Regions from separate parts of the Homo sapiens genome. Here region 1 is linked to region 2. Evidence: fine-mapped QTL for protein levels in blood plasma. Region 2 holds a variant in brackets. A gene starts in the other region. All regions are shown on their forward strands. Region 1 holds the start of BSG (basigin (Ok blood group)). Region 2 overlaps EDEM3 (ER degradation enhancing alpha-mannosidase like protein 3).

The links. A credible set is the group of variants that fine-mapping cannot tell apart. PIP is the chance, under the fine-mapping model, that this variant and not a neighbour inherited with it causes the effect. The UK Biobank Pharma Proteomics Project read protein levels with antibody pairs (Olink). The fine-mapping took linkage between variants from a reference panel, not from the people measured, so its PIPs are less certain.
Region 1: it holds the start of BSG, and the variant in region 2 is the best candidate, but not a certain one, in a credible set for the plasma level of the BSG protein (UK Biobank, PIP 0.76).

Annotation. Positions count from the first base shown.
Region 1 is chr19:570,931-573,844 of GRCh38, forward strand. BSG (basigin (Ok blood group)) reads left to right here and starts at 1,666. Exons shown (of 9, transcript NM_001728.4): 1 at 1,666-1,771. The coding sequence starts at 1,705. BSG-AS1 (BSG antisense RNA 1) reads right to left here and starts at 1,318. Exons shown (of 3, transcript NR_184018.1): 1 at 1,179-1,318; 2 at 510-666. RefSeq lists enhancers at 1-486, 567-616 and silencers at 1,437-1,656, 1,827-2,006.
Region 2 is chr1:184,701,372-184,704,285 of GRCh38, forward strand. EDEM3 (ER degradation enhancing alpha-mannosidase like protein 3) reads right to left here. Exons shown (of 20, transcript NM_025191.4): 19 at 1,440-1,625. Among named protein-coding and RNA genes, the nearest start is that of EDEM3, 52 kb to the right of the region's middle. The variant G/A (reference allele first, on the strand shown) is at 1,593.

The DNA.
Region 1 (2,914 bases), not on the chromosome of region 2:
CTACTCAGGAGGCTGAGGCAGGAGAATCGCTTGAACCCGGGAGGCGGAGGTTGCAGAGAGTCGAGATCGCGCCGCTGCACTCCAGCCTGGGTGACACAGCGAGACTCCAACACACACACACACAAAAGATATGGCGCGTCTCATTCATTCACAAGTTCCTCTTCAAAGGTTTGGCTCGTTCAGCGCCCTCGTTCTTCGTTTCCTACTTCCAAGGCCAACCTGACTTCCTCACCCTCTGGGCCTCCCCGTCTGAGTCTCAGTAAACAAGTTTCCCGCCGGTCCTGATCTGCAGAGATGGCACCTGCCACCCACTCTGCACATCCCCCTCCCGTCGCCACGGGCTCTTCCCGCCAGTGTAGCCACATTCCTGCCCCTTTCCAGTTAGCCCTTCGCGTTCGGCTTAGTCTGCGGTCCTCTTGCATTGCGACTCCGAGTTTAACTTCCAACACACACTTTCAACCTCCAAGAGACGCCCCCACCTGTGTCGCCCCAATAGCGACTTTTCTCACCGTGGTCGCCGCGGAACTTCAAGGGTCCTTCCTACCCGCGTTGCTGAGAGTCTGGGTTTACGCGTCACCTCGGGCGGGACCCGATCCTCCGCTCCTGAGGCCCCCACAATGAAGCAGTCGGACGCGTCTCCCCAAGAAAGGTAACCGCCAGCCTCTCCTGAAACAGAATGGGATCCAAATGGGATATTTGGGGGCGGCGAGTCGGTCCCGCAAAGAGAAACCAGCACTTAGAAAATTTCTCAGCGAGACCACTTTACTTGTACGGAAGGGGGCTGCCTGCGTGGGATGCAATCTCCAGAGCACACGGGACAAAGGAAGGGAGCTTCTGTTCCTCTGTCCTTTCCCTGTTGGCTGGGGTTGGACGCCCACAATCTAAGCTGATCCCGGTTGGCTAAAACTTAAAACTTTTTTAAAATAGGGTAAACGCGCCACCTGCGAGGAAAGAAGAAGGGGGTAAGGTTGATTGACAACTTTAGACCTGGAAGTTGAGTTTCTGAAGAGGAACTTACTTGTCCCAACCAAATGGTGCACAGGACGTTTATACTAAGAAATTATTCATTTTCTGAGATCCAGATTCAAGTGCCCTTTAAGTATTTTTATTTGGGCGGAGGAGGTCACTTCCTCCCACCTAATTTATTAATACGTTCATATATATATATATATATGTACATTTTTAAAGGCAGAGATGTGCGTCTCGCCATGTTGCCGCGTCTGGTCTCGAGCTCCCGGGCTCAAGCGATCTTCCCGCCTCGACCTCCCAAGGCTCTGGGAGTACAGACGTGAGCCACAGCGGCCGGCCCGTGTTTAACTCAGATAAAATCTGGGTAACACACTTTCAACGCTTCAACCCCCTCGGGCGCACCGCTCTGCGCTCATTGCAACTTTGAAAGCAGGAAGGAAGAAATGCGCAGGCTCCAGCCGCGTCCCCGCAGGCCCCACTCCCGTTTCCTAGCAACGCCGGGTCACGTGCGCCGCCGCCCGGATTCCGTAGCGTGAGCCTGCCGGAGCCGGCGCGTACATGCGAGCGTGTGCGCGCGTGCGCAGGCGGGGCGACCGGCGTCCCCGGCGCTCGCCCCGCCCCCGAGATGACGCCGTGCGTGCGCGCGCCCGGTCCGCGCCTCCGCCGCTTTTTATAGCGGCCGCGGGCGGCGGCGGCAGCGGTTGGAGGTTGTAGGACCGGCGAGGAATAGGAATCATGGCGGCTGCGCTGTTCGTGCTGCTGGGATTCGCGCTGCTGGGCACCCACGGAGCCTCCGGGGCTGGTGAGGAGCGGGTAGGGGGCGGGGGTGCGGTCCTGCAGGGGCCGGGAATGGAGGCCGCGGTGCCGACCCGAAGCCGACGGGAGCCTGGGGCCTCGGCGCGGGGCGGCCTGGGGTGCGAAAGGCCGGCCCCGGGGGCTTCCCGCGCCAGCATGGAGCTTGGGGGTGAAGTCCCAGGGTTTGAGGGGGGACTAGAGGTTCCTCCCGGCGCGGCCTGCCGGGCTCCCCCGGGCGCTCCGGCCTCGAGCCCGGCCTCTGTGTGTGGGCGTGAAGCTCCCTGCTTGGAGGCGGGAGCCAGGGGGTCCTGGCCAGGCCGGTCTTGGTCAGGGGAGGTGGGCGTCTTGCTTTTCGGTCACCTGGGGTTGGGGGTGACCTGCTTCCTGGGTGAGGGCGTCTGCGAAGGCGGTTGGAGGTGGCCCGCCCGCCGGTCCCATCGGCCAGGAGAAGGGAGACCCAAAGCCTGGGTGAGCGTCCCCTTTGGCCTGGAGCCAGGGGTCAGGGGCTGGTTGGTGCCTGCCCAACCCGTCCTGCTGGGGCTGGACTCCGCAGGACCTGGGGAAAGCGGCCTGGGCGTGGAATCTGGAGACGGGTCCACCCTGCCTGCGAGTGTTAGGGTCAGAGACCCTCCCCTGAGACTCTCTGGGGCCCCCGCAAGGGCCCGTGCGGCCTGGAGCGATCATCTTGGCGCTCCCTTCTGGAAAAGGGGCTTTTGTCCTCCAAGAGCACATGGAGGCTCTGAGTGGGTCAGCCCTCCGGATCGGGAAGGGATTACCGTTCTTCACGGGATTTAGCCCTGGCGTCTTGCCTAGGGCGTGCACCTGCCCCCGGGTGTTCTCCCAGACTCTTAAGACCTCGCAGGCTCCCTCGAGGGGCCCTGCGTGGAAGGGAAGGCGGAATCTCCCTCTGATTCTGCCTGGATTCAGCACCCAGAATGAGGTGGTCTCTGAACGCCCCTCCTCCTTTACAGGCGAGGAAACAGCCCTGTGGGAAGTCGAGGTTCCAAGGTCACAGTGAGGGGGCCCTGGCCACCCGATTCAGCGCAGGAAATAGTGAGAAAGTCGTTTTTAGCCGACTCTGACCCGCATTCGGTTTCCAGTGCTGTCTTAGGAGGGCCGTGTGTTGAGGGTGGGCAAACGTGGTTTGGAG
Region 2 (2,914 bases):
CGTTACACAAGATATTATCATGGTATCCACTGAAACAAAATTATATATGTACTTGAGTGTGTGTACACACACCCAAATACATATATACGTATATAATTTAAGGCTTGTTAATGCAAGATACTTACTACTATTAATAATGTAGCTTGGAATCATTTTACCTTTTAATATTGCTGCTGAAATTCCAGTGGTAGCACAAAATAGGGGGAAAAAAAGCAAATGCATTAAAGAGTTACAAGAAATAATAATTTGCCTATGTTAGATGTGCCTAAATGCATATATGTAGGCAAGAAGATCTGAGTTTAGAAAAGGGCCCAGGAAAAAAAAATCAGGTATACAGAGGATTTAAGACTAGAAAACCTTTGTATTCTGTTCTGTTTCCATCTATACATTGTTATATACAAACAACCTACTTGCTCACTCCATTGCTCATAAATAATTGACATTTCAAAGAATCTCAAAGAAGAATAAAGCAATACAAGAAGACAAAATTAGGCTAGCATGATTATGCTAGCATGATTATCACCGAACATTTTTTTTTAAATGTCCCACTTGGAAGTCACATTGAATTGAATCAGTTTCCTACATATCTGTCAAACACCCCAGGGGATGTAACAACCCTGTACTATTATGCAACTTCATCTATTTAAGGGTATGGGAGAACTTTAGCTCTCTCTTCAGGTCTCTCCAGCAGACAGGAAAGACTGCTACCACAAGCAAGATCTGAAGGCTCACATTCCCTCATTTCTCCTCTATCCCTGGGTGTGAAACTATGTAAGAATACTAGTAAGGCCTTGCATTTATATTGTAATTTGGGTTTCAAAGACATTTCAAATTACTAACAAACATTTTGGCCTACAGAGGACTATCTACTCTCATAAATTAAGACATGCTATCTTGTTTTTCAGAAACAGCCATTTGTAACTCTTATATCCATGTGATAAACTTAGATCTCATTGGGAAGAAGCTGCTAGATTTCTATTGCCTTCACCAAGACAGCAGTCATTTGATTATAGGTGGCCTGTTGAGACTAACTACTATGATATTGTATACAACATTCTATATATGTCTTCTCATTCCTTATAAAAGACATGTAAGATGTAGTATCAGTGAAATCAAATTGTGAACATTTCCGGATGTTAAAATGGCTTTCCTGAAGCAGTCTCTTGTATTTTTATCACCTGAACAGACTCAGGGCAAAAATTACAAATCACACATAAAAACATATGTCTAAAAACATCCTAACTCAGAAAACAAAGCAAAATAAATGTTTTATTATTCTTATTTCCAAAAGAAAAATATATTTTGAAATCATCTTCTAAAAGTTTTACTTGTTTTCACAGTGAACCCCCCAAAACAATTTTTTGTGACTCATTCTTGTTATCAAACTAGCAAAATTAATATTACGCTGCATAAAAAAACAAATGGTATTTTACTCTTACCTCGATCTTTTGCTTTATCAGAGAGGAGCACTTCTACCTCCTCATATTCCCGGATGGCATCCAGTATGATACTTCCTTCTTTGCTGAATAAGAACAGCATGGGGATCTTGATGTCATCTGTATCCTTTCCATCACCTGCCATCTGGAACAGAG[G/A]GGCAGTATCACTGCTGCTCCCCTCATTGTCATCTAGCCAGAAAATAAATACAGCAAACATCAAAATATCCAGCCATTAAAAAGATCTATCTACTAATTGTTACTGATTTTTTACAATGACAGAATTAATTTTATGCATCAAGAACCATAAAAACCAACATAATTTTTGGACCCATTAATTCTCATAGAAACGTATCCAAAGGAAATAATTCAAAAGTAGCGAAAAGCCCTATGCCCAAATAATTTTACTAGACTATTTATAATTGTAAACAACTGTACACCATTATAAGTAAATTATAATGACCTACTTGATAGGACACACAGAATAATAATACATTTAAAAAGTAGAATACAGAATTCTATGATTATGACTATAAAAATTTCATATGCTTATGGAAAAGCCTAGAAAGGAAAAAATCAATGACTCGGATTACAGTGATAGAACTATGAATGAATTTTATTGTTGAAAATTTCCACTACTGGCATGATTACATTGTTTTACCAAACTAAAAATGGACATTTCTTTTTTATATAATGCACACAAAGAATAGTTATGACTATAGTGCTTCTTCCTCTATAAGCTAAACTAAACAGTATTGCTATTTTGCATTGGTTAAATAATAGTAGTAGAACTATTAATAGTAGTAGTACCAGCAACATGCTGTTTTACTGAAGACGACAATCACGACCACCTCCAAATCGCATGCCAGTCTCCCAGAAGAAACTATCTGTCCTGTCTCAGGGTGCTCACTCTCATAGGACCTGCTAAGTGCAGAATGCATGACCCATCCTCTTGGTAATAATTGATTAGACAAAAGATGGCTACCTGACCCTGAGTCTCTCTGGGGGACCTGGAACTGGCACACAGAAAGACTGTTTCAGTTAGCAGGGGGTAATAGTCCAGTTGAATGACACAGACTTAGGGGCTGAGGCTGCAAACTAGAATGGCCATTTTGGAACTGAGGAACAAAGAGAGAGAAGGCTGGTGAGAAGCTGGAAAATGAAGCAGAATTGCAAAGAGAAGCAGGGAAGAAAAGTTCAGAAGGACCCAGAGGTAGAGATACAGAGAGAAAAGTGAAAAACATTCACTATCATGGATCCTGGTGATTTTTAGTTCCCACTTCTACCTCCTGGTGAATCCTAGTTGTATTTGTACTGTTTAATTCACTAAAAATAATCCATTTCTGTGTAGTGAAAAAACCTCCCTTCTTAAACCAACGTAATTATCTCCTGCAGCCACATGATTTCTAAGATAATTCGTATTTCTAACCCTTGCAACAAAAAACAGCTAATTCCTAATTTATTCATTTATATACAATTAA